4 linked regions of the Homo sapiens genome follow. The protein of the gene in region 4 purifies or fractionates together with the protein of the main gene of each other region. This does not show direct contact. Each region holds a gene or a part of one and is shown on either strand. Other genes may lie near its edges.

Region 1 (7,025 bases), on a different chromosome or scaffold from region 4:
ACTGGCTGCTTGTTCTTATGGAGGAGGTTAAAAATTTCCTGCTCCAGGGGAGTTCTTGCCTTCCAGCCACTGAGCGCATGTTCAATGGGAGCAATGGCTGGCTGCTCCTTCCCCAGGGGAAAAACCAGCTGCTCTGCCTGCTGGTTCTTCAGGATGATAGGGTCCCATTTGGAGAGGACCTGTGAGGTTTTACTGAATGCTACTTCTCTGTGGATCTGTTCAATTTTTTCTTTGTTAAGAGGTAACTCCACCACCTTCTTTGATTTGACTCTATTCAGTTGCTTTTTTACAGTGGCCAAAGAAGATGAAGTTTTAACGGGCTCAAGCAGATCTGCAAGGCCCAGCTTTTCTCCTGATCCTTCAGAACTGACACTGAACTCTGACACTTTCAGACTAGCCTCAGACCTCTCAGCCAATTTCCGCCTATTCTTTCCATCAAGGGAAATGATTGCTTCCAGAAGCTTTTGATGCTTTCTCTCTCCATCACTGTCCCCCTCATCTTCATTTTCACTCAAGGGGTAGTTTTTTGGCAAATCCACTAGTTCTTCCTGGTGGCTCAAAGCCAGATTCTCTGCAACCTGGTTCACATTCATCTCAGCAGCCAGCCTCTCTCATGTATACCAAGAATGGAAGCCGAAGGCTAGTCATCCATTTTCTTTTCAACACTTCCTTTTATTCTAAAAGGAAATTTTGTCTGTTTTCTAAAGTAAAATGATTTGACAAATGAGATTGAATTTAGAAAAATATTTACATATGAAGGTGTTTAACCAGTTTATATAAAATATCTTTAATTTTACAGATATGGCATTACTTAAATAACTTTTCCACAGATGATAGGAATGTCACTTCAAATTCCTGATCAGAGAATCTGCTTACAGATGCACGAGCACTTTTTCTGATTTGGAGTCTCTTTTCTGCAGACATGGAAAGAATGTGAGCGATAGTTTCAGCATAGTCTTCTTCACTCTCAGCCAGAAAGCCAGTTATATCTCCTTCGTGAGGAACCACAATGTCAAGCTTTGGGCCCCCCGAATTGTGTGCAAGGATAATTGTGCCAGCTGCCATACACTCCACAACTCCTGAGAAAAAAAACACAAATCATGTAATCTTTTAAGTTTTTGAGTGTGTTCATAAGAATGAGGATGAATAGAAATCTTCAAAAAATTTAAGGGACTTATGAGAAACTTAATTAAATGTATGTCTAGACATTTGCTTATTCAACTTCTACAGTACAAGATAAAATAATTTTAAGTTTTTTAGTTTTCAAAGCTTCATAATAATACTGCTTCACTTTTTTTTTTTTAAGAGATAGGGTCTCACTATGTTGCCCAGGCTGGCCTCTAACTCCTAGCATCAAGTGGTCCTCCCATCTTGGCCTCCCAAAGTGCTGGGATTTACCAGCGTGAGCTACCACACCCAGCCTGCTGCTTTATTCTTAGTTAAAATAGACAAGTAGATGGAAGACTAGCCTATTAAAAAAGATATATTGCAGATAATTAAAAAAGAAGACTAGAGAATGTTAGCAAGATGGTAGAATATTAACAGGTATTAGAAAAACAAAAGGAGTAAAAACATATAAAAAACAATTTTAATAGTTCAAATTACATTAGCAGAAAAAATAAAAAAGTGAATCACCTAAGTGAAGCATACTATCGCCGTGCTTATGTTACTGCCTGGATTTCTGGCATATTTGAGACTACTGCATGCCCAACAACAGTGCTGAACTAAATGAAAGTTGTGGTTAGTTTCTGCCAAATGATACACATGAAATATAAATTACTCTAGCCAGCCCTTCTTAGCCATATTCCTAGGAGAATTAAGCCCTTCAGGGAATGATTCAAGTGACTGCTTTCCCAATTATCTGAAGGATGGTACAGAGCTGATATCATCCTGGATGTATAGGAGAGAAATTAAATCATTCCAAATGTTTTTAGAACTGGTGAAATCCCTGCAGAACAGAATTCAGTAGCTCATATCATATTCTGCTTGAAGCTGGAGAGCATCCTGTACTTTCTCAGAGACCTGCATCTTTTACCCTTTCCCTCTCTACTGGCTCCTTCCTATCAGCTAGGAAGCTAGGGCACCACATGCCCTTTCTCAGGTCCTGCAACACCCACCCCTAGCCACTGTCTCTTCTCCCCCTCCCCGTACTTCACAGATAAACTTACTGAAAGTGTGGTTTGCACTTACCAACTCTACTTGTTCACTTCTGAGTGCTTGACTTTTGATTTTTGCTCATAGTCTGACTTTTGCTTCTACTTCTCCCTCAAGACTGCTCTTGCCCAGGTCACCAGTGACTGCCTTACCTTCCCCAGCATCTGGGCAGCATCGGAATCTGTGCCCTCTCCATTCTTCTCCAAACACTCTCTTCCTTGGTTTCTAAGACACTGCACTTGGATGGCTTTCCCCGCCTCTCCATTTCTTCTCCCCATTTCTCAGCTGTTCCTGTTCTCTGCATTTTGTACTGAGAGCCTCTTTTCACTCTGTACATATTCCCCAGGCGATCTTAACCACATCCACGGGAGCTTTGATAACTACCTGCACAAGGACAATCCTCATTTTTTATTTCCAGACCAGACTCCTCTCAACTTCAGACTCCTATATACAAAACTACCTCCTGGACGCATGCCCTCACATGTCCCACAGATGAACTCAAATTCTGCAGGTTCAAAACTTGGCTCATTAATGGCATTTGCTCTTGGATTTCCCCTCTGGGAGAAAGCCAACACCATTCTCACAGCTGCCCTGCTCCCAAAACCCTAGGTAGTCTTCTCTTCCTCCCTCATTTAACACATCCAGTTAATCACCAAGTCCTGGTCAATACTACTGCAGAATGTTTCTCAAGCATGTTCACCTACGAAGTTCAGCTCATGAGCACCTCCATCTGGGCTGCTACAGTAGGCCGGCTCATCTTACTGCCCTTCCAGTCTTGCTCTCCCTGCTCTTCACTGATCCACTCCCCATGTGGCCAGAATGGACTGGAGAAATCAGAAAGCTTTTACGTGCAATACTTAAAATCCTGCTATTTTTTTCCACTGGCTTAACCTGGCCTATATCACCTCTCTGTTGTCTTCCTGCTGAATGTTCCTATTGATGCATCTGTTGTCACTCCTGTCACAGTGCTGTTCCCTCTGCTGGAGACTCTCCCCTCTCTCCTGGCTAACCTCTATTGTTCGGGTCCTGCTCAAGTGTCACATCATTTCCTTGGGCAACTGTTCCCTGCCCGCACAAGTCTGTGTTAGGTTTCTCTTTGGCGCTTTCACATCACCCTGCACTTCCTTAGCATAGCACCTGGCACACGGCACAGCACGGCACGGCACTTGCCTGTGTAGCCTGTTGGTACCACCAGAGGGTGGGAAGCCTCTGACAGGCCAAGCAGCTCCTGTCTCCACCACATCCCTAGCATCCACCCAAGCGCTCAGCAGAGTGAATGCTTAGTAAGTTTCTATGGAAGGAAGCACAGGAGGTCAGATCCCATGCAACAGGTTGGGTCAACAAGTTCTTGCTTAATGTCTGGGCCTAGCACTACACTACTAACTAGGAGTAAAAAGAGTATAAGAGAAATTGAAGTCTTAGTTTAGGAAATGTCACTTTTATGTTATCCTCATTTCCCCTAACAACTAACAGTGTGAGGCACAAAGCGCTTGAGAAATATATGTGGACCCAAATTAAACACAAAGCAGTACTTGATTTTATAGCAAAATGTGTGCTTAACAGGTCAGAATAGAGATAGCAGTTTGTGCCAGAATAAACAAGAAAGGCTAAAGTGCAAGGAGATTTAAGTTGAAGACTTATGATGCAATCTGGCACAAAGAGGAGAGCCATTCCAATGGTGAGGGTAGAATCAATAAAAGACTAAAAGAGTTACTGTGAGAAGCCCCTATGCAAACAGTGGTTCTCAACTTTTGATGCATAACAGAATCACTTAAGCAGCATTATCAAAATACATCTACCTGGGCCTTGTCCAGAGATTCTCATTTGGCCATTCTGTAGGATTAGGGTAGGGCCCAGGAATCTGTACCAGTAAGTATGTAGTGGGGTTAGATGGAGAGAGAAAATGTTGCTGTTAAGAGCAGGGGCTATCTGGGTTAGAATCCGGGCTCTACCACTTACTGTGTAACTGAACTCGAGCAATTTCTAAACCTTCCTGTGCCTGAGTTTCTTTATTTATAAAATGGGAATAACAATAACACCTATCAAACGGGTTTAGAAAGGCTTAAATTAGATAATACATGTAAAAATCTCAACACAGTGGCCCACACACAGGAATTGGTCAATAAATACTAGCTGCTATTATTAACTACTATCTTACAAGGTCTCAAGTGAGGAAAGCACATTTGGTGGATGAGGGCAAGAGAATTAGGGCATGATGCAGATTTCCAGAGTATTATCATTTTATCAAAAGAACTTAAAATGTGTATCTCATGGCACCAAACAAGTTGTTTAAAGGCCAAACTCACCAATCCCAAAATGCTCGTTCCACATGGTATGCAGACCAATTGTTGCTTCAGACAAATAATTCTTTAATTCATCAAATGGAATGTTTATTTTAAATTCCACATATTCTTGAACTCCTAAATCCTCAGACAGCCTTCTCAGTTGGTTTACCCTAAGTTCATCATCTTTGTTACGACAACCTCCAATGAGGACAAGTTTAAGCGAAGGAGGTGACTCAACCATCTTCTTATTCAGCAATTTAGCAAAGGCTCTGATCTGCAATGGATGATTCTTTTCCGGCCTAAACTGGCCAACAGAAACCAGCAAATGTCCTGGGGTCATCTTTTTCTCATGTAAGGGAATGTCCAGAAATGTCTGCACATCACAAGGTGGATAAACAATGTTAGTGCAATTCCCAACTTTCCATAGTGAGAGAATATGGTTTAGTGTCCAAGAAGAATTGACCATGACTACATCACTGCAAGAACCAACAAGTCCATAAATAAAAGCAAATAAATAGTAGTAGATGAGCTTTACTTTGCTGAGAAAAGGATTCCTGGTAATGAAGGCTGCATTATTAAATCCAATATTTTGATTCTTCACTACAGAGAGCATGTCGGTGCTGATAGTAGGATAATGAACATAGCTTCCAACTTGGCAACCCCCTATATACTTAAACAGAGGAAGCGTAAAAGCGTATCCCATTGAATCAATGTAAACATCAGGAACACACTGCATTAGAGCTTCCCAGCCAAGAAAAATGGATCCTAGACTTTGGCCCAGCAGTGTGAAGTGAGGATACAGTGAATCTTCCACAAGATAGCGTTTCCTTAAAAAAACAAACTGCACTGGGTGAATTAATCTGATGTTAAATCTTCTGAAAGCACCTTCTAGTATCTGTTGACCGTTGACATTAACATCGCCGGTATAAACAACATAAACTGCTTCAGGATACCTAAAATAGAATGTAATGGTTAAGAATATATTAAGTTACAAAAATTAGCCAGACACGGTGGCACGCACCTGTAATCCCAGCTACTCAGGAGGCTGAGGCAGGAGAATCGCTTGAACCCAGGAGGCGGAGGTTGCAGTGAGCCGTGATCATGCCACCGAACTCCAGCCTGGGTGACAGAGTGAGACTCCATCTCAAAAAAAAAAAAAAAAAAAAGCCTGCTACCTACCCTGAGAGACTGAGAGCCGAGACTGCATCACTGCACTCCTGCCTGGGCAACAAGTGTGAAACTCCGTCTCAAAAAAACAAAAACAAAAACAAAAAAAAGAATATATTAGGTTAAAATCAAGCAAAAAGTTGTAGATAACTATTTTCTTACAGTTATAAAGAAGATTTGATTTTTTTTTTTTTTTTGGAGACAGTTTCACTCTTGTTGCCCAGGCTGGAGTGCAATGGCGCCATCTTGGCTGACAATCTCTGCCTCCCGGGTTCAAGTGCTTCTCCCGCCTCAGCCTCCCGAGTAGCTGGAATTACAGACATGCACCACCACGCCCGGCTAATTTTGTATTTTTAGTAGAGTCAGGGTTTCTCCATGTTGGTCATACTAAAAATGATGTTTTCTACATTTTTTATTGAATTAGAAGTACAGTCCTTCAAATGAGACCATGACTTCTAGTTCTTTGCTATTTCCTCCACTGAGGGTTTCACACAGAACAGGCATCAACAGTAAGTGTTGATTTATGAATGAGATGGTCTAAAGAAATACTAAAAAGTTTTGACAGTGTTCTTAGTAAAAAAAATGGTAATAAAATACTATAAACAAGAATTAAGATTCAACAAACCTGTCTTCAGATAGGATCACAATACTAAAGCAATACTCAGGGTTTTTATCTGAAAAATGCAAGTCTTTAAAAGCTAGATCTTGTGCCTATATCACAATTAGATATAATTAGTATGAAAATATCTAAAAGTATATTCTTTAATGACTTGTAATACTTTGGTCTCCCTCTGTTTATAATTATTCTTTGAGTCATAAAACATTTATTGGCTGGGTGCAGTGGCTCACGCCTGTAATCCCAGCACTTTGGGAGGCCGAGGCGGGTGGATCACCTGAGGTCAGGAGTTCAAGACCAGCCTGACCAATATGTGTGGTGTGGTGGCACATGCCTGTAATCCCAGCTACTTGGGAGGCTGAGGCAGGAGAATTGCTTGAACCCAGTAGGCGGAGGTTGTGGTGAGCCAAGATCGCACCACTGCACTCCAGCCTGGGCAACAACAATGAAACTCCATCTGAAAAAAAAAAAAAAAAACAAATTTATTAAGCATCTAGTAATGAGATGCCAGGTTTTGGGGGTATGGAGATGAGAGAGAGTCTTTATCTTCAGAAGTTCAGTCCAGTGGAGAAAACAGACATGCAAAACAAATAACTGCAAAACTGTGTGCTACGCATTGATAAAGACACCCACAGGATGCTGGGGAAGCCTAAAGGATGACAATCTAACTGCTCCTCTCTGGCCCCTTCCCAGTCACTCTTTACCCAGCAGCAAGAATGAGCCTTTTAAAATGTGAAAAAAGATTGTGATCTCTGGTAGCCTAAAAATGCCCACAAATTCCATTTGTTTTTTCTTTCTTTTTT
Region 2 (7,025 bases), on a different chromosome or scaffold from region 4:
CAGCTTCTTGGCTGAAAAGTAACCTTGCTATTGCTCTTAATCTAATGACAATATCTCATTCATTTTATGATTTCCCTGCAAGGGCATTACTACACAGCTATTGCTGTAAGCAAATAATAAATACCACCAGTGAATTTTACAATTCTGAAAGTTGTGACAAACACATGCATATGCACATAAAAAAGGTGGAGGCCTGGTATGGTGGCTCACACCTGTAATCCCAGCACTTTGGGAAGCCCAGACAGGGTTGGTGGGGGAGGGAAATCACTTGAAGTCAGGAGTTCGAGACCAGTCTGGCCAACATGGTGAAACGCCATCTCTACCAAAAAAAAAAAAAAAAAGATACAAAAATTAGCCACGCGTGGTGGTGCACGCCTGTAGTCCCAAGCTACTCAGGAGCCTTAGGCACGACAATCGCTTGAAGCTGGGAGACAGAGACTGCAGTGAGCTGAGATTGCACCACTGTACTCCAGCCTGAGAGAAAGAGCAAGACTCTATCTCAAAAAAAAAAAAAGAAAGGTGACAAACTATGTATTTAAGTTCCCTTTACAGTATCACCTTTTTATAATATCATATTTCATTTAATCTAAAGTACATCCTTATTTTTTGTGCCACTAAGAAAGAAAAAAGCTATTAACTGATGACTCTCCCCACTGATTATAACATGGTTCTGATTTCAGAGACGTTCAAATGTGGAAAACCTGTACCTCCTGTAATTAATTAAACATGGCATTCAAAACGTTAATTTACCTGAGCCCCATCTCAGATCAATTCAACAAATTGCTCAGGGTAGGTCAAGGAATCTGTAGTTTGTTAAAGCTTCTCAGATGATTTTGGTTAAAGACTAAGTCAACTGTCAACCTTCAAAGGCAGCACAGTAGAGAAAGCACGCACTTTGGAGTCACATAGCCCCACACATCTCTGTGACCTACAGCAAATTCTGTTAATTGCCCACAACCTCAGCATCTCAGCTTTATCTGTTTAAAAACAAACAAACAAAAAACAGTCAATGCCACCGACTTCCTATGGTTGATAAAAGAGAACATATGTAAAGTACCTGGCATACAGCAAGATACGCTCTTCCTCCTCCTCCCTAAATTACAGGTGATCCCTAACTAGAGACTTGTGTGCTGTCTATTCCAGCTTAAAATTTATATAAGAATGAGAATGAGGCCGGGCAAGGTGGCTCACGCCTGTAATCCCAGCACTTTGAAAGGAGGCCAAGGTGGGTGGATCACCTGAGGTCAGGAGTTCAAGATTGGACTGGCCAACATGCTGAAATCCCATCTCTACCAAAAATACAAAAATTAGCTGGGAATGGTGGTGGACGCCTGTGATCCCAGCTACTCAGGAGGCTGAGGCAGGAGAATTGCTTGAACCCAGGAGGCAGAGGTTGCAGTGAGCCGAGATCATGCCATTACACTCCAGCCTGGGTGACAAGAGCAAAACTCCGTCTCAAAAAAAAAAAAAAGATAAGAATGAGACCTATGAAATCCACTCAGCATTATCACTGCTGAACACACAAAAAGAATCATTCAACAACTGTTTATTATGTAACTGAGCAATACACACACGTTTATTTTGGCACATTTTAAGAGGACCTTCACAAATGAATGCTGTTTAATAAAATTTTTATTAGAAAATATTGCACTTGATTTACATCAACAACGCACAAAAATGTATACCTTTAAGTGTGACATAATTTTAGAGTAGCTAATGGTTCTGTTTCATGTACAAGTTTTTGTTTTGCTTTAGGATGTGTAGCTGGCAAGATTTTTCAGAACATTGGCGTAACTGCATCAAAACACCAAAAGTAATGCTATGGAACTTCTCAACTCAGGTGCCTGAATAAATACTCACATGTTTGATTTGTCCCAAAAGTGATTCTTAAAATCCAAACAGCATTTTAGGCAGCACCTTTGGAATTGACCAGTCAACTCAGGATGTGACTCACAGGGGACAGGTTTAGCCATAATTGGATAGAGTTCTCTCACATGTGTAGCATGAGGAAAAAAAACAACCCTCAAACCCACAATTGCACAATGTCTCTGCCTGTCTCCCAATGAAGAACACATGGATTCAAATAAATACCAACTCCACCAAAACGCCTAGGGTTAAGGATTTGCTGCAGAGTGCTAACCTCCCAAAAACCCACCCAGGATCTGGGCCCTCTGGCAGGTTATGCCAGACTCATGGGCAGAGGACACCTTCAACCCTCCACCCCTCCTCCCCACCAAGCATGGGCTCTGAGATTTAGGAGAGAGGGGTGCTGGGAGGAGAGGAATACATGGTTCATCTCCTTTTTCTTTCCCTTGACCAACCACTTCTCCCAAAAGGAAAGGGTCCTTTGGTTCAGTTGCCCAAATCTGAAACCCTAGATTCCTCTGTGACTCCTCCCCTTTCTTTAGCCCTAAAGTCTCTTCTACTAAGTCTTCTCCAAACTCACCAAATTCCTCACAAATCCATCCCACCCCTTCAACTGCCTTAGTTGATCCCTCTTATCATCACAAGGTTGGCTCTATCTCATTTCCCAGATCCAGCATTTCATTCTCCAAAGCCATCCTTTTCACTGGGGCCAAAGTTATCTTCCCTATAACCCAGACCTGACTGCGCACTCTCCTAGTCTGCATTCTTTAGCAGCTCACTGAAGAATTCACCTGTAAGAGTTCAAATTCCTACTCTAACCTCAGCCTACCTTCCAGCTTTATCCTGTGGCGCTCCATGGCTTTGCTAATTTTTCACCTCAGCCACATTAGATTTTTCCTACCCCACAATTTCACACAGCTGCTTCCACCCTCTATGTCTTTGTTCACACTACTTTCTCAGCCTGGTATGAACTGCTCTTTTCTGCCTATCAAATTCATCCTTCAAGATGAGGCTCAAATGTCTTTTTTTTCCCTGGGACAAGTTTCCTAAACTCTCTAAGCCTGTCTCCCCTCCGCCCTTTCCACAGTCAAAAGTAAGTGCTCCTACAATAACTTATGTCAACCAGCAATATAACTCTTATCTCTGTTACAGTCATAAATGCAAGTCTCCCCTACAAAATTCTGAGATCTTCAGGGAAAGGAGTGTAATAATTTTGAATTGTCATTTTCTACCACAATATATGGTACTTGGTTTAGCTTCAAAAAAATTTTCTGGACTGATTTGGGACACAGTGATTTCAACTAGTATTGACTTGATTTTAAATAAAATGTGAACATTCTTGACTTTTCCAGAAGATATTTATTTTAAGAGGAGAAGCAAGTTATCCAAAGTTAATTTCTAACTGGTGGGAGATGGGGCCTCTTCCCAAAAGTCCCCCTGACCCCTATCACCACCACCACTGTTGGCATAACCAGTTTATACCATTCCCCACCCACCCACCAGCATGTTCTTCCCAAGCTTCTGGCACTGCCCAGCCATATGCCACCTTCACAGGCTCCGGAATTCCACAGAGCTCAGTACAATGAAAATTATCAATTAAAGAACATGGGAGGATGCAAGAATAATTAGCATAATAATAAAGACCACAAACAAGCACCTGTGGCAGGAGGCTTGCGGTTCTACTCTTTGAGTTTTTGGTTAATTGCACTCCTCCAGAGCTGATAAAGAGACAGTATGAATTCAGGTCTCAGGCAGGACTGAGTCAAGACCTGGCCTTCTACTCACTGTCCAAAAGGCCCTGAATCAGGGTCCTCATCAGTAAAATGCAGAAATGAATGCCTACATTGCAGCCTGTTATGCAAGTAACAGGCTTGTAAATGCAAGCGATGAACCAGGGCCCAGGAACACAGGAAGGCCAACCAGAGTTTAAAAGCTTCTGAAGCTTTCGGTGTTTCAGAACTTATACACTTCCATCAGGACCGTGTGCCCTACTACTACCAAAAAACCAGGCTAGTCATTAATACATACCTACTCTAAGATTATTGTTTTCTCATTTCTCTGTGTCACCCCAAAATTTCTATGTTGAAATCCTAACCACTAAGGGATGGTATTAGCAGGTAGGGCCCTTTGGGAGGTGATTAGCTCATAAGAGCAGTCCTCATGAATGGGATTAGAGCCCTTATAAAAAGACCCAGGGGAGCTCGTTTGCCCCTTCCACCATGTGAGAACACAGGGAGAAAGCAGTATCCATAAACCAGGAAGAGGGCTCTCAGCAGATATCAAATCTACCAAAGCCTTGATCCTGGACTTCCCAGCCTCCAAAACTGTGAGAAATAAATCTCTGTTGTTTACAATCCACCCAATTTATGGTACTTTGTTACAGCAGCCTGAGCAGACTAACACTCATCTATAAAATGGAAATGACAGTACATAACACAGGGATGACCTCTATGCCCCACACAGACAAAAGACAGCACTTTTAAAAGTGTCAACTACTACTACAACCACCATTAACTACTCGTAATATTGTTCATATAAAAAGACTGCCACACGTCATCTTCAATAGTTAAACCCAAACCCTAACTGCCATTTACACATTGTGGAATGACCATAATCCCTTACCTCCATTTCCTTCCAAAATTCCTCTAAAATGATAGTTTAAAAAAAAAAAATCACAAAGACATCAAACCATAAGGACAAACAGAAAAGGAAAGACAACATGCTTTTTTAAACAAACTTTTGCAAGATGGCAAAGTACTTGAAGGAATGGTCACTGCCCCTCAGGACCTCCAAGAGGCTCAGGTCTTGAGGCACCAAGGAGATGCCAAAGGCTGATGTGAGGCTTAGCCTAGACAAGGGGGGAGCCACCGAAAGAGGTGTTCAAAGCTTTTGGATCCCCAGTTCCAGCAGGAAACCCAAAGTTTTTTCTGAAGAAACTGAATCACAGTGACAGGAGAACTGTAGCCAGAAGTCGAAGGCTACAGCCTCCATCCCTCCCTCAGCCAGGTAACCCAAACCCTGGCAGCTGGCATATCACCAAGCATACCAGAGGCAGGAGATGATGATTTCTTCATTGTGAACACTGGCCCCAAACGAGATGTAAAGGTGTTGATATTCGGGGCAGACTCCCAATGAAAAGTCCACCTGAACTCACAAGTCACTAGACCACCAATACACACATGTTCTCTCCTCTGCAATCAGCTCCTCAGGATCTTTTTCTTCATTATAGACAGTCAAGGATCACCAGATATTTATGACTTAAACAAACAAAGAAAAGATCCCTGAAATGAATAACCACACTGGAGGAAACAGAAGAAATATTAAAAATATATTAAACACAAAGAAAAAATAAAAATACACACATCAGAGATAAGTAAAGATAATACATCCATAAAATAAGATGCAATGAAATGGAAACAGAAAAAGATTCTAAAATTTAAAAACATGATCATTAAAATTGAGAACCATTCCCCCCCTCCCACTCCTTCCAGTACAAAGAAATACGTAAGACATGAGATTAGTTAAGAAAATTTAAAGATCATTTGTAGTGGGTTCAACAACCAAACCAACAGACATCTCAGAAAGAAATACACACACACACACACACACACACACACACACACACACACAGAGAGAGAGAAAATAAAGGGTGGGAATTATTAAAAAAAAAAAAAGCATTTCTGAAAACTAAAAAGAGTCTCTAGATTGAAAGGACCCACTAAGGTAATACAAGAAAGAAAAGGAAGAAAGGAAGGAAAGAACCAACCAACCAACCACACAAAAACTTATAAAACTTCAGAATGCCAGAGAAAAAGAACCTGAGCTTCAAAAAAACAGAAAAAAAGAGGCATCAGAATGGCTTTGGACTTTTCATCAAAAACCCTTAAGACAGAAAACTGTGAATATGCCATCAAAATTATGAAAAAATGTATTTCTACTTAATATTTTAAATTCAGCCAAACCATCTATAAAGTATGAGGACAGGATAGATACATTCAGACATTCAAGGCCTCAAGTAATTTATCTCCCATCATTCCTTCCTAAGAAGCTACTGAGGATACATACATAGTAGCAAAATGAAGCAAACCAAGAAAAAGGAAGACAGGAGATCTAAAAAACAGAGGTTCCAAGACAGGAAAGAAGTAACAGGAAGTCCCAGAAAAAATAATCGTACTATCTAGATTGGAGCAAGAGGATGGAATGCTCCAGACCAAGAAGTCTCTAAGAGGAAACCAAGTGGCACTGATAGATGATTTAATGTGCTACCTGGAAAAAAAAAAAATCAAAAGGCATTTAACATACTTCTTGGAGTAGTTGAGGGAACACAGCCAAAGATAAATAGGTAACGAATCAAAACGCAATTTTGATAAAATGCAATTATTTGCTGTGGGAAAAACAAAAATGTATAAAAAAAATCATAAGTCACTATTTAGCAATACCTGTGTACACAATAATGTAAATACTGCTATTTTTACAAAAAAGTTACGTAACTACATTGGAGGATTTAAGAGAGAAATGAGAAAGAGCTCAGTTATGATACTAGAAAGTCAAAGACTTATTCTACATTGATTTAGAATGACGAAAGTAAAAAAAGAGGAAGAAAAAATAAACAGACCTAGCTGAGGTAGTAGCTACCCCTGGAAAGTAGAGCCTGAGGGATAAAAAAGACAAAAGCAAGAGCCTGCTGTGTTTGTCAAAAGTCTTTTAAGCCGGATGCGGTGGCTCACACCTGTAATCCCAGCACTTTGGGAGGCTGAGGTGGGTGATCACCTGAGGTTGGGGGTTTGAGAACAGCCTGACCAACATGGAGAAACCTCGTCTCTACTAAAAATACAAAATTAGCTGGGCATGGTAATGCGTGCCTGTAATCCCAACTACTGGGGAGGCTGAGGCAGGAGAATCGCTTGAACCTTGGAGGCAGAGGTTGCGGTGAGCTAAGATCATACCATTGGACTCCAGCCTGGGCAACAAGAGCGAAACTCCGTCTCAAAAAAAAAAAAAAGCCTTTTGGTTCTCTTAAAACTATATGCATATATTAACTGGATTAAAACAATTTATTCTCATATCAAGGGTAATTAGTTCAATTTATAAAGTTGTCACTATCAACTTCATTTATAAGTTTCTTACTTGGAACTCTAAACTGTCTTAAAAATATTATA
Region 3 (7,025 bases), on a different chromosome or scaffold from region 4:
TGTCTGTTAAAAATACAGTTTTATTTCTTCCATTATTTTATTTTATTTTTTACAGAGGTGAGGTCTCACTATGTTGCCCAGGCTGGTTTTGAACTCCTGAGCTCAAGTGATCCCCCTGCCTTGGCCTCCCAAAGTGCTGGGATTACATTGTGTGAGCCACTGTACCAGGCCTCATATTTCTTCCATTCTAACTTTATACCTTTTATTTCCTTTTCTTGTCCTGTTATGCTAGCTTAGACTTCCATTACAATGTTGCACAGGAGTGGTTAGAAGGGACATCTTGTCCATTTCTGATTTTACTTTCTAACCATGAAATATGATATTAGCTATTTTTTGGTAGATATTCTTTAGCAAGTTGAGGAAGTTTCCCTTTTATTCCTAGTTTGCTAAGAGTTTTTCATATGAATCAGTCTTGGGTTTTGTCAAATACTTTTTCTGCATTATTGGTATGATCATATAATTTTTTCTTTAGCCTGTTGATATGATGACTTACATTAACCAATTTTTGAATGATAAGCCAGCCTTGCATATGTGTAATATGCCTCTCTTGGTTATGGTATGTAATTTTTTCTGTATTGTTGGATTATATTTGCTAATATTTTCTTGAGGATTTTGTATCTACTTTAATGAGTGATATTGATCTGTAGTTATCTTTTCTGGTAATGTCTTTATGCGGTTTTGGCAGTAGGATAATATTGGGCTTGTAGAATAAGTTAGAATGTGTTCCCTCTGTCTACTTCTACTTTCTGGAAGAAATTGTAAAAAACTGGCATTATTTATTCCTTAAATGTTTAGTAGGATTAACCAGTGAAACCATCCGAACCTGGTGCTTTCCTTTTTGGAAGGTGATTTTTTTCTTCTTCTTTTTTTTTTTTTTTACTAGTTATTGACTCAGTGTCTCCTTCCTTCCTTCCTTCCTTTCTTTCTTTCTTTCTTTCTTTCTTTCTTTCTTTCTTTCTTTCTTTCTTTCTTTCTTTCTTTCTTTCTTTCTTTCCTTCCTTCCTTCTTTCCTTCTTTCTCTCTCTTTCTTTCTTTCTTTCTTTCTTCCTTTCTTCCTTTCTTCATTTCTTCATTTCCTTCCTTTCTTTCTCCCCTCCCCTCCCCTCCGCTCCCCTCCCCTCCCCTCCCTTCCCTTCCCTTCCCTTCCCTTCTCTTCCCTTTCTTCCTGCAACGTCTTGCTTTGCTGTCCAGGCTGGAGTGCAGTGGTGCGATCATGGCTCCCTGCAGCCTTGACCTCCTGGGCACTAGCGATACTCCCACCTCGGCCTCTGGAATAGCTGGGACCACAGGCATGCACCACCATGCCCTGCTAATTTAATTTTTTTTTTTTTTTTAAGAGATGGAGTCTATGTTGCCCAGACTCGTCTTGAACTCCCTCGGCTCAAGTGATCCTCCCACCTTGGTCTCCCAAAGTGCTGGGATTACAGGCATGAGCCACCATGCCTGGCCCACTAAAGCACTTCTTTTTATGTTTCTCGCACAGCAGGTCTATTGGTGAAAGGTTTGTCTGAGAAAGTCTTTATTTATACTTCACCTTTGAAGGAAAATTTTTCTGGATATAAGATTCCATGTTGGTGTTTTTCTCTTTTTTAAGTTTCAATGCTTTAAATATTTCACTTCACTCTCTCCTTGCTTGCATTGTTTCTGACAAGAAGTCCAGTGTTGTTCTTGTTCTTCTATATGTAAGGTGTGTTTTTTTTCCTGTGACTTTTTTCTGTCTTTCTTTTCCCTCCCTCCCTCCCTCCCTCCCTCCCTCCCTCCCTCCCTCCCTTCCTTCCTTCCTTCCTTCCTTCCTCTTTCTCTCTTTTCTTTTCTTTTCTTTCTTTCTTCTTTTGAGATGGGGTCCCACTCTGTTTCCCAGGTTGGAGTGCAGTGGTATGATCACGGCTCATTGCAGCTTCACCCTAGTGGGCTCAAGCCCAAGTGATCCTCCCACCTCCGCCTTCCAAGTAGCTGGGGCCACACGCGGGTGCCACTAAGCATGGCTAATTTTTGTATTTTTTGTAGAGATGGTGTTTCATTATGTTGCCCAGGCTGGCCTCGAACTCCTGAGCTCAAGTGATCCACCTGCCTTGGTCTCTGAAAGTGCTGGGATTATAGGAGTGAGCTACCATGCTTGGCCATCTTTGTCTTTCTAAAGTTGAAATATGATATGGCTAGACGTGGATAGGCATATTTGGATATTTATCATGCCTGGTATTCTCTAAGCTTCCTGGGTCTTTAGTTTGGTGTCTATCATTAATTTTGGAAAATTCTCAGCCATTATTTATTCAAATTATTTCTTCTGCTCCTTTCTCTTTTCTTCTTCTTGTATTCCCATTATATATCTGTTACACCTTTTGCAGTATCCCACAGTTCTTGGCTATTCTGGGGTTTTTTTTAAATTCTTTTTTCTCCTTGTATTTCAGTTTGGGAAGTTTCTTTTTTAAAAATTGTTTGTGATAGGGTCTTGCTCTGTATCCCAGGCTGGAGTGCAATGGCGGGATCTTGGCTCAATGCAACCTCTGCTTCCCAGGTTCAAGCAATTCTTGTGCCTCAGTCTCCTGAGTAGCTGGGACTACAGGTGTGCACAACCATGCTGGCTAATTTTTGTTTTTTAAGTAGAGACGGGGTTTTGCCATGTTGGACAGGGTGGTCGCCAACTCCTGACCTCAAGCAATCTGCCCACCTTGGCCTCCCAAAGTGCTTGGATTATAGGTGTGAGCCACCACACCGTGCCCAGTTTGGGAAGTTTCTATTAACATCTTCAAGCTCACTGATTCTTTCCTTGTCAGTTTCTTTTTTTTTTTGAGACGGAGTTTTGCTCTTGTTGCCCAGTCTGGAGTGCAGTGGCGTGATCTCAGGTCACTGCAACCTCCGCCTCCTGGGTTCAAGTGATTATCCTGCCTCAGCCTCCCAAGTAGCTGGGATTACAGGCATGCGCCACCACCCCTGGCTAATTTTGTATTTTTAGTAGAAATGGGGTTTCTCCATATTGGTCAGGCTGGTCTCGAACTCCTGACCTCAGGTGATCCACCCACCTCGGCCTCCCAAAGTGCTGGGATTATAGGTATGAGCCATTGCGTTCAGCCTCCTTGTCAGTTTCAAGTCTACTGTTGAACCCACTGAAGGCATTCTTCATTTCTTTAATGGTGTTTTGAGCTCTAGCATTCACTTTTGGTTCGTTCTTAGCATTTCCATCACTCTGCTTATATTATCCATCTGTTTGTGCATGTTATCTGCTCTTTCTGTTAGTGCTCTTAACATTTTAATTATAGTTTTTTAAAATTCCCTATATGATAATTCTAAAATCTGTGTCATACCTGAGTCTGGGTCTGATGTTTGCTTTGTTTTTATGTATTTTTTAGCCTTGTAATTTTTTAGTTGAAAGAGAGATATTATGTATCAGGTAATAGGCTTTTATTATGCGGCCTTATGTTAATTTGGCTAGGAGCTGGGTTGTGTTTAATGCTTATTGTAGCTATAGGTGCCAGAGACTTCAGTTTCTCTAGTGTTTTTTTCTCTCCTTTCCTATTGTCTTTGGGTTTCCTTATGAACTCCTTAAATAGGTTCTGTGCCTTGTAGCTCTCTCACTTATAATCTTCTGTTATTATACTGGAGCCCTGTTGATGTGGTAGTAAAGTGTTGGAGGAGAATCTGTTTATACTTTTATGATTAAATCTTATTCTTTTAGTGGCCTGAGCCTCTGGACTGTGGCCTTCAGAAGTGTTTCTTAGCCTTTTCTCTTTCTCTCTTCTTAAGTAATACAGAAAGGCTATAGACAGCTGGAGTTGGCTAATTTTCTTCTCTCAGGTCAGATAAGGCTCTGACATCTTCCCTTGAGATGGAGGGAATAATCTAGGTATATTTTAAAATGATTACTTCTTTCCATCCCCCAGAAAGAGGAGGAGATTTTTCTTGGCTCTTTACTGTGAGAATCTGGTGGGGTTCCTGGAAGTAAAACTCATGACAGTGTGATAGCATCCCCAAGACTGGGTCCCGAGGATGAAAACCCATGAAAGTGTGGTAAGCATCCCTAAGACCAGGACCTGAGGAGGTTTTTATTCTCAAGCTAGTCCACACTCATCCTTTAGCAGTTTGTCGGAGTTACTGCTTAAGTACTTCTACTGGTTTATGACTCCAGCAGCTTCTGCATGAGGTGATTTGATCTTAGCTGTAATTTTCTTAATCTCCTTCTTTCTCCAGTTTTCTGAGTGGCAGTTTGCCCTGTCACTTCAATTCTCTGAGGAATCTAAGAAAAGCTGTTGATTTTCAATTTGTTCAGCTTTTGTTCTTATTATAGGGTGGGAGTGATGACCTCTCATGTGAGAGGGAAACCTGGAAGTCAATAGTGGCTTTGGAAATGGCAGTTTATTTTTCTTTCACACTAATGTAGCCAGCCCAGGGCAGATATGGCAGCTAGCTCTGTGATCATCTGGGACCCATGATCCTTTTATCTTGTCACTCTGCCATCTTCAGTATGTATCGTCCACCTTGTGTTTGGAAATGGCTTATCCATCTCCAGTCATCACATAGTATTCCAAACATTCTGCAGGAAATAAGGAGAGAGAGAGAAAGAGACAGTCTTTTAAGACATCCTTTTAGTTTAAGGATACTTCCTAGAAGTTGCTCTTGCCACTTTTGCATAAATCCAGGCCTACTAGACCCCTGAGTTTGCATGACCAAACATACCTGCAGTGGAGGTTGGGTGATACAGGTTTAATCTGGATATGTCATGGCCAGCTAAAAATGCACAGAATGGAAATTGAAGAGCAATTAGCAGTCTCTACCACAACAGTGTTCCAAGGCTTTCCTCAGATTATGAAAGGTGTCTGTTTCACAACACAGCTTAAGAAAACTCTGCTTTACAAAATTGCTGTGAGAGTTGTGGTCACAGCATGTCAGTACCCGGTTGGCACTGGCACCAACATACCCAGAATATTTAGCCCAAGCTGACTTGCATTCAGTCACTCACATGTCCTGAAGGCTTACCATGGCTCAGATGTCAGGCTGATAATAAGCTAATCCCTCCCTACCCTTAAGGAGTGCCCAGTCTGGTATTGTAAATCTCCAGCTCATTGCTGGACATGGTTGCAGCATTTTTAAAGAGTAGGCATCCTGTGTTTTTTGTCTTATCTGGCTACAGGAGCAGTGATGCATAGCTGTGAGGGTATGGTAGAAGCCAGTTAGCATAAGGTGTGGTGGGGATAAAAGGGTGCTGGGCCCAACTCTGTATGATTTTTTTTCCCTGACAGCTTCCCCAGCCAGCAGATTGTTGCTGGATCAAGTGGGCATGAAAGAGAATGAAGACAAATATATGTGTGAGTCAAGTGGGTTCTACCCAGAGGCTATTAATATAACATGGGAGAAGCAGACCCAGAAGTTTCCCCATCCCATAGAGATTTCTGAGGATGTCATCACTGGTCCCACCATCAAGAATATGGATGGCACATTTAATGTCACTAGCTGCTTGAAGCTGAACTCCTCTCAGGAAGACCCTGGGACTGTCTACCAGTGTGTGGTACGGCATGCGTCCTTGCATACCCCCTTGAGGAGCAACTTTACCCTGACTGCTGCTCGGCACAGTCTTTCTGGTAAGGGTCTTTCTGGACATTTCTTCTCTTCCTTGCCTTGAGGGACTATAACATAAGACTTATTCCCACACAGCCTGGGTCTTAGCTGGGGACTGAAGGGGAAACAGAGAAAGCTTGGACTGGAAGGACCAAGCTGGAGTCTGGCCTAGCTCAGCCCCAGAGTCAGCAGTCCAGCCTAGGTCCCTACACCTGGGCAGATGATGGTCTTAGTAGGTGGAGAGTGGTGACTGTAGTCATCAGGTGGAGCAGGGCTATTTGTCAGCTCATGGCAGCTTCAGGGTTTTGGATGGTCCATATGGCTTGAAATAGGAAACCTGCCAGTTGCTAGGGGAATGGGGACAGTATCCTACCCGTGTTCCCTGAGGATAAGGGGCTATCAGGGGCCAGGGACCAGTCCTGCTAGCAGCCCTTCTAATAAGGCTCTAGGTCCACTGTAAACTGTTGGCTGGTAGAGGCTGACTCAGTAGTCTTGTCTTTTTTTTTTTTTTGAGATGGAGTTTCGCTCTTGTTGCCCAGGCTGGAGTGTAATGGCGTGATCTCAGCTCACCACAACCTCTACCTCCCGTGTTCAAGCGATTCTCCTGCCTCAGCCTCCTGAGTAGCTGGGACTACAGGCATGCACCACCACGCACGGCTGATTTTGTATTTTTAGTAAAGATGGGGTTTCTCTATGTTGGTCAGACTGGTCTCGAACTCCTGACCTCAGGTGATCCGCCCGCCTCAGCCTCCCAAAGTGCTGGGATTACAGGTATGAGCCACAGCACCCGGCCAGTAGTCTTGTCTTATGGGCTGTGTCCCAAGATGGGGAGGGCTACAGTAGAGTGGTTCTGCAAATGCTCAATGCCTTCCCCAGGCACACTGGATCCTTAAAACACAGTTCACGGCAGACCCACTCCTGCTGGTGGGCTGGGGCTTTTTGAGCTCATATGCCTTGGTCATAGCTCTGGTCTTGGGTGTGGGTGGCTCTGCTGGTAAAATGCATCTCCCTGGGGCTGAGAAGAGTAAGGAAGGCAGGGAGTGACTGGGGCACTGAGGAATGTGGTCAGGCAATGCCATATGGGGCCCAGGATGATCCTGGGGAGAGAGGAATTATTCTTGGAAGTTAGGACTAGGTGTGTGTGTGGGTGGCATGTGCAGGGATGCAGGGAGGGTATGTGTGTCCATGGGGAGTATGAAATGGAAATATACCTTGCATGTATGGTACGAGGGGTTGTCTATGTGGTATGCACATAGGGATAGAAGATGGTGTCGTATTACACAAGGTTTGAAGATGAGGGTAGCACAATTATGTGGTACGTGGTGTTCATCTTCCATATTTTTGGCAAGTGCTACATACACTGTTTGATGTATGGAGGTGTATGTGATAGGAATGGAGATGCTGAGACATGTGGCAGAGGGCTGGTGGTTAAATCTCTGACAAGGAGGATGACACAACCACACAGTTCCCAGCAG
Region 4 (6,963 bases):
ATTGCTGCCTGTTCCTTCCTCTGGAAGCTTTGACCCAGTGGGGCACCTGCCAGATGCCAGCCAGAGCTCTCCTGTATGAGGTGTCTGTCGGCCCCTACTGGGAGGTGTCTCCCAGTCAGTATACGTGGGTGTCAGGCACCCACTTGAGGAGGCAGTCTGACCCTTAGCAGAGCTCGAATGCTGTGCTGGGAGGTCTGCTGCCCTCTTCAGAGCCATCAGGCGGGGACATTTAAGTCTGCTATAAGCCCCTGATTGGGGCTGCTGCCTTGTTTACCAACATGCCCTGACCAGAGAGGAGAAATCTGGCAGTCTGGCCATAGCAGCCTTGCTGAGCTGCAGTGGGCTCCGCCCAGTTCCAACTTCCCAGCAGTTTTGTTTACACTGTGACCTTAAAACCATTTCCTCAAGCCTCAGCAACGGCAGAGGTCCTTCCAGATGAGTTTTGTAATAGACTCCAGCAGTCCTACTGGGGCCAAGACCTCAAGGAAAGCCAAGTCTATCATTGGGAAAAGTCTTAGGGCTCTAAGTTTTGAATTCTGAAAATTTTTCTTAGAACAAAATTTTGTGTCATTTTCAAATAAAGCACAAGTTTTCCTCATAAAACTTAGTATCTGTAGACCCCCTTCCCACCTCACTTTTACAGCTGTCCCATTTGATCATCAGACCCTGCTACCTTAGCCAGTTCAGGCTGCTACAACAGAATAGACAAGGTGGCTGAAACACCAAGCATTTATTTCTTACCTTCCTGGAAGATGGGAAGTCCAAGATCAAGGTGTCAGCAGGTCCGGTATCTGGCGAGGGCCCTCTCTTCCTCACCAGATGGCTGTCTTCCTGTTGTATCCTCACACAGTGGAGAGCAGAGACAGACAGCAAGCTCTCCTATCACTTCTTAATCCCACATGGCTCCACTCACATGAGTTATGACTTCCTAAATAGCATCACCTTGAGAATTAGGATTTCTGCATATGAATTTGGAAGGCAGGCAAACATGCGGCCTGTAACACCACCCATATCCGTTCCACATCTAGGTTCCCTCTGTGTGCCGGGCAGTATGCCAGTTAATTCAAGTGCATGTCAGACCCAGAGGGTGACATCCTGTGACTCAGATGCTAGGGCCCTTATGATGCCTGGTAAGGTAAGTGGGTCTTTACCACTGTCCTTTCTTAACTAGATGGAACAGACTTCAAAGAAAGTAACCATGGACTATCGGCAGGGCTCTATCTCTGGGGCTGGGGGATAAGGGGTTGTCTGCTCAGAGGACAGTGGGTCAAGCGTTTGAAGGAGCCGAGGAATGCACATTTTTTACATGTCCCCTATGTGGTTCTCTGTCTGCTAAGGTTAAAGAACCTCAATTTTGAGGGTGCACTTCCACCTCTTGGTCTGGAGAAGGGGTCTCAAATCTGTCCTGAGTGGAGCCTGTTCTGTACACATCCAGGCCCTGAGAGTACACAGAGAGGAACTCACTGCTACCGCCCTGCCAATACTGCTGCTGTGGGGACACCAGCGGGGGTGGGCCAAGAACAGAGTGTATGTGTGTGTTTGTGTGTGTGTGTGTGTGTGTGCATGGGTGCTTGTGTGTGTGTGCGTGCATATGTGTGATATGACCACTGAGTAGCTCCTTAGCAGGGCCAATATTTTCTACAAGTCTGATGACTCACAGGAAGGAGCACACCAGGCCTATACTTGGGTCCTGACATCTGGGATGCCAACCTAACACTGAAGAAAAAGAAAGAGCTGCAGACAGGCTGGGAAAAATATACAGAAAGGGGAAAGGGGCCCTTCCACCTTTGTTGCCCTCTGTGGTCCTGAATCTCAGCTTGGCCTGAGCCAACCTGAAGATGGGAAGGAATAGCCATTTTCCAACTGCAAAATGTCAGCTTCAGGCAATGGTTTCAAAACTGAAGTAATGGTTACATATGAAGTAGATTTTTGTTTGTTTTGTTTTTTGAGACCAGGTCTTGCTCTGTCATCCAGGTGGAGTGCAGTGGCATGAGCACGGCTCACTGCAGCCTTGAACTCCCAGGCTCAATCAGTCCTTCCACTTCAGCCTCCAGAATAGCTGGCACTACAGGCATGAGCCACCACACCCAGCTAATTTTTAAATTTTTGGTGTGGAGATGGGGTCTCATCACGTTGCCCAGGCTGATCTCGAACTCCTGGGCTCAAACAATCCTCCCCCCTCAGCCTCCCAAAGTGTTGGGATTACAGGAGTGAGCCACCACACCCGGCTGAAATGGAATTTTAATTGAAGTAAGAAGCGGGTGATAAGGAAAGTGAAACCAATAATTTCACATAGTCCCTGGAAGCCCGTTGCTATAAAGAACTTTCAGCCTGAAGTCCAAAGAGAGACGAAAATTTTAAAATGAATTGGACTGCAGTTTTCAATCCCTGAAAATGAGTCACAGCCTTTTTGTGGCAGTGTGCCCTGGGCTTCTAACCGTCCTCTCCCTGCCCCAGCTGCCTTGAGGTCCCGGCCAATGGTTTCAACACTCAGGCTAGGAATGCCAAGGCCCGGCAGAGCGAGGCTGTGGAAGCCTTGGCATAAGCGGAAGGGAGGATCTGAGGGAGAATGGGACAAGAGAAGTCGGAAAGAAGGAGTTAGGGCAGGAGAACAAGGAGAAATCCCTGTCCCCCAAATTGGAGAGAGGGGCGATTGGGACTCCAGACTGGAAGGAGGCACGGATCCCTGAGTGCTTGGTGTGGAGGCAGAGGACCCGCAGAGCCACCCCGTCCTCCCTGCCTTATCCAGCGTCCCCGCCGCCACACCCCCAGCATCTCCCCCAACCCCACTTTTACTTCATTATCTGCCCCTGGTTCTCTCACCACTCGAGCCCCTGCTTTCCTCCTTCACTCCCAAACATGCACACGTTCCCTCTGCACGGGTGTTTGGAACACCAGCCATCCCCCACCCCCTACCTTGTGCCAGCAGGAGATGTTTGTCCTTCTGCCGTCTCTAGGATGGAGAGGCCTGAGGTGACTGCTTCCTCAGAGTCTCTGTGCAAACTCTCTGAGGAGCAGAAACCAGTTCAGTCTCTCTGGGTGTGGAGAGGCCGGCCTAGCAGAACACCCGTCCACCATGCAAACCGGGTGGGGCCACCTGTCAACTGTCACGTGTGAGTGATTCTAGGACAGGGTAACTCGTCCAGAATTGGATCCAATTCAGTACTGGATTCACCATCAGTAGAAGGACCAAGACCAGACTCAAGTCCCAGCCACGAAATTCTAGAAAGGATTTAATGTAATTTTAGCAGTTGTTGGAGACCAGCATGTGATGGCATACATATGTTTTCCTTGATATGTAGGTGGGGGCCCCCACCTTTTTTCAGGGTTTAGGCTTCTGCAGGTCCTGGCATAGCTGTGACAGCGGCCCTACCTCATTTCTGGTGGGTGCTGGCTCCCTCTATTGCTTGGTTTCTGTGCAAACACTGCATTATCGTCCTGCCCTCTTGAGACCTGGAGCTCCTGCCCCCTGAGCTCGTGTTCGCACTGTGTGTCACTGAACCTCGCTGTTTTCTTCTTGCAACTCCATTCCCCTCTGCAACTGGAAGACCAGCACTTCTCCTGAGTCTTCCTTAAAAGACACCCTGCCCACTTCCTTACAAAGCCCCCACCAAAGTGACACCAGCTACTTGTGAATGTAGCCAACTTTACTGAAGATTTAGAGGTTATGTTATAAGGCTGTGAATAATTTAAAAAAAAAATCACCTATTTGCTCGACCTCTTTCTTATCTCTTCTTTGGACTAGAAATAAAATATCTATGATTTGACCACACTGTCATCTAGTACTCGACCCTGGTTCTAGGCCACCGTCCTCCTGGCCAGGGTGATTGCAGTGCTGCCCTACTTGGTTCTCCGTGCCTGTCCCCACCTCCCAAATGGCTACAGCGCAGCCAGAGTGATCTTCAGAACCTCATCACTCACGCCCCCCTCTGCTCCAATTCTCCAAAAGTGCCCTTTTTCTCTCAGTAAAACCAAAGTCACTACAGATGCCTAGAGAGCCCTGCACAGTCTGGCCAGCTGTCCATTATGCCCCCTCACTCGCTCAGTTCCGACCTCCACCCTCGGCCTCCTTGCTGGTCTTCAGAGCCCTGCAGATGTCCCCGTGCCTTGGGACTTTGCATTGCCCTCCCTTCAGCATGGACTGCCCTTCAGGCATCTGCCCGGCTCACTCCCACTCCTGCTCCCAGGTGGCACACCCTTCCACGCCTGGTTCTCCCTGCCCCTCGCATTTGGAACCCTTGTATTTCTTTCTTTCTTTCTTTTTTTAAAATTGTGGTATGATTCATGTAACGTGATTTTTCATCTTAACCACTGTTAAATGTAAAGGCCTCTATTTCATAATGGGAGACCTCTGCCTGCCCAGGCCATCCTGGACCTTCTTCACCTGAACTTGTTCCCCTAAAGCAATGACCACTTTAAAACATACCTTAGTAAGCCGCGCACAGTGGCTTACACCTGTAATCCCAGCATTTTGGGAGGTCAGGGAGGCTGGATCACCTGAGGTTGAGTTTGAGACCAGCCTGGCCAACATGTTGAAACCCTGTCTCTACTAAAAATAAGAGAATTAGCCGGGTGTGGTGGCCAGTGCCTGTAATCCCATCTACTCAGCTTATTGAGTCAGGAGAATCACTTGAAGCCAGGAGGCGGAGGTTGCAGTGAGCCGAGATCACGCCACTGCTTTGCAGCCTGGGCAACAGAATGAGACTCTATCCCTATAAACAAACAATCAAACAAACCTTATTAACTTTTAATTGTGGTTGCAACAAATTACTGCAAATTTAGTGCCTTAAAACAACATACATTCATTCTTTTACCATTCTGGAGCTCAGAAGTCTGAATAGTCTCACGGAGCTATCATCACTGTGCTGTCAGGGCTGTGTTCCTTTGGGAGGCTCTCGGGGAGAACCTGTCTCCTCCTTGCCTTTTCCAGCTGCTCAACTGCCCACGTCCATGGCTCAGGACCCCATTTCCTCATCTTCAAAGGCAGCTCCACCAGGCTGAGTCCTGGTTTACATGAGAACACTACCCCTCCATGGCTGGTTTTCCCAGGGCAGCTGATTAGCCACCTCAGCTCCATCCACAGCTTTCACCGCCCTTTCCATGTACCCCAACACAGAGGTTCCAGGGACTGGATCTGCCATCCTGAGGATTGGAGAGGGAATTCTTCTGCCCAACACACATACCATATAATTTACATATCTATCCATTTAAAATTTCTATCTCTTACTAGAATGCCATTTCTGTGAAGACAAAAACCTCATACAAGGCACAGAAAACAGCTCCCCAGGGGTGAAGGGGCTCAGATGGGCCCCCTGGCTCAGGGAACAAGGAGAGGTGTCAGGGCAGCCTCCCTGGGTCTCCAGCCTTCACAGCCGGTGCCTCCCAGGCAGGTTCCAGCCACAGCAGCAGCAAAAGAGATGTGGTGGGCAGCATCAGGCATTGGCGAGATTCCTGACACAGTTCAGTCGAAAAGAAACTTCCTAAACTGAGCTCACCTCAAGGAAGCTGGAGATAAATGCCACCTTACCCAATGGGTACATGAAATACAAATACAAATCCTTTTCCAGGTTGTGCAGGTTACAACTGGCCCAATTCTATGCCTGGTCCCCTGCCCTGTCCTGCTGTGACTTGCCAGGGTGGGGTGCTCATTGGCCTCCAGGCTCCACTCACTTTTCTGACCGCACCCAGTTTCCACCTCCAAGTCACCCCCCAGACTGCTTCTCCTTTTGCTGTTTTTTCTCAGCCCAGCAGAAATTCTAATATTCGCCAGGCTTGGCCCTGCTCAGGGCACCGGAGAAGGAGCCTCTGAGGAAAATCTTGGCACAAGGAGCAGCTCTCCCACCTGGATTTCCAGCACCCTCTGTTTTCTGGGAACTCCTGAATTTCTCTGGCCATTGGCACAGGGGCTCTGCCACGCAGTTCCCCTGGCGGCTGGCCCCTGACATCTGGCAAAGAGTTAGGAATGCAGGTGTTTCTGGCAAATATGTAGGGCCTATGAGATAAGAAAGTGGGGGAAGCAAGATCACGTAGGTTCTCTGTGAGAGAGGCCGCATGCCCAGCAGGACAGAACATCCCTGGCTGACAAGGGCCATCTTCCCCTGTCCTTATCTCTGCCTGGGCTCCAGCTCCGTCCTGCCTGACAGAGGCCGTGGAGCAGAGCACTGGGCTGCTGGTCAATGTCCTGGTCTTTAGATAGACCAGTCTCCGGATGGGGTCACAGTGGGAGAGCAGTGGGCCTGGGAGGTGCAGGGTTAGTGCAGGGCAGGGCTGCCTTGAATCTGCAGGTGCGGGGCCACCAGGCTGGACCTATCTGTATGCTCAGCACAGGAGGTTGCAGTATTGCCTGCCCTCAACCTCCTTTTCCTATTTCTGCTGCTAGAGGGCACTGGGGACTGGGGTCAGGCTGGGGGTCTTGCCATCCCCTCCTGATCTCCTCCACTCCCTGTCCACAGCTCCTGATTTCCCTGCCTGGGCTGCCCCCACCAGAAGTCTCCAGGCCTAAAATCCAGTAGGAACAGGCAGCCTAGCCTGTCCCCAGGGGTTTCTTTAGCACTTGCAGGAGTCAATAAGGCTTCAGGTAGGAAGGCCTGATGCCTTCCTCATCCACAGACGCCTAACAGGTGTTTCTGGAAATGTATCCTGTGGCAGCCAAAGAGGCTGGACTCCTCAGTGTGTTTCCAAACAGAGCCAAACACAGAGTTCATCGGTTGGAGGAGCCCAATCAGCTGCTCATTAGTGTGCCTTTGACAAGCCTTTGTACGGCGGGGAGGAAAAATGATTTTCATGAAAAAAACAAACAAACAGGAGTTTATTATCTATCTATCTATCTATCTATCTATCTATCTATCTATCTATCTATCTATCTATCTATCTATCGTCTCTTGTATATACACAGGAAACACCTGGAGAAAACAAGTAATCCTTAAAGTGCTGGCTTAGAGCTCCAGCATCTTCAACAGAAAA

Evidence for each region.
Region 1: the proteins of RAET1E (region 4) and ALG11 purify together in Homo sapiens (affinity purification with mass spectrometry; 2 studies listed by BioGRID and IntAct, with this or other methods). This does not show direct contact.
Region 2: the proteins of RAET1E (region 4) and RYK purify together in Homo sapiens (affinity purification with mass spectrometry; 2 studies listed by BioGRID and IntAct, with this or other methods). This does not show direct contact.
Region 3: the proteins of RAET1E (region 4) and NCR3LG1 purify together in Homo sapiens (affinity purification with mass spectrometry; 2 studies listed by BioGRID and IntAct, with this or other methods). This does not show direct contact.

What each region holds. Positions count from the first base shown.
Region 1 is NC_000013.11:52,022,373-52,029,397, reverse strand, and holds part of ALG11 (GDP-Man:Man(3)GlcNAc(2)-PP-Dol alpha-1,2-mannosyltransferase), read right to left. Parts: intron 5,393-7,025; coding exon 4,461-5,392; intron 1,080-4,460; coding exon 808-1,079; 3' UTR 594-807; coding exon of another isoform or gene 1-593. Other genes in the region: UTP14C (U3 small nucleolar RNA-associated protein 14 homolog C), read right to left, coding at 1-593. UniProt on the Homo sapiens protein: GDP-Man:Man(3)GlcNAc(2)-PP-Dol alpha-1,2-mannosyltransferase that operates in the biosynthetic pathway of dolichol-linked oligosaccharides, the glycan precursors employed in protein asparagine (N)-glycosylation.
Region 2 is NC_000003.12:134,240,849-134,247,873, forward strand, and holds part of RYK (tyrosine-protein kinase RYK isoform 2 precursor), read right to left. Parts: intron 1-7,025. UniProt on the Homo sapiens protein: May be a coreceptor along with FZD8 of Wnt proteins, such as WNT1, WNT3, WNT3A and WNT5A. Involved in neuron differentiation, axon guidance, corpus callosum establishment and neurite outgrowth.
Region 3 is NC_000011.10:17,361,775-17,368,799, forward strand, and holds part of NCR3LG1 (natural cytotoxicity triggering receptor 3 ligand 1 precursor), read left to right. Parts: intron 1-5,234; coding exon 5,235-5,573; intron 5,574-7,025. UniProt on the Homo sapiens protein: Triggers NCR3-dependent natural killer cell activation.
Region 4 is NC_000006.12:149,895,105-149,902,067, forward strand, and holds the start of RAET1E (retinoic acid early transcript 1E isoform 1 precursor), read right to left. Parts: upstream 3,010-6,963; 5' UTR 2,917-3,009; intron 1,136-2,916; exon of another isoform or gene 1,029-1,135; intron 1,027-1,028; exon of another isoform or gene 929-1,026; 5' UTR 742-928; intron 1-741. UniProt on the Homo sapiens protein: Binds and activates the KLRK1/NKG2D receptor, mediating natural killer cell cytotoxicity.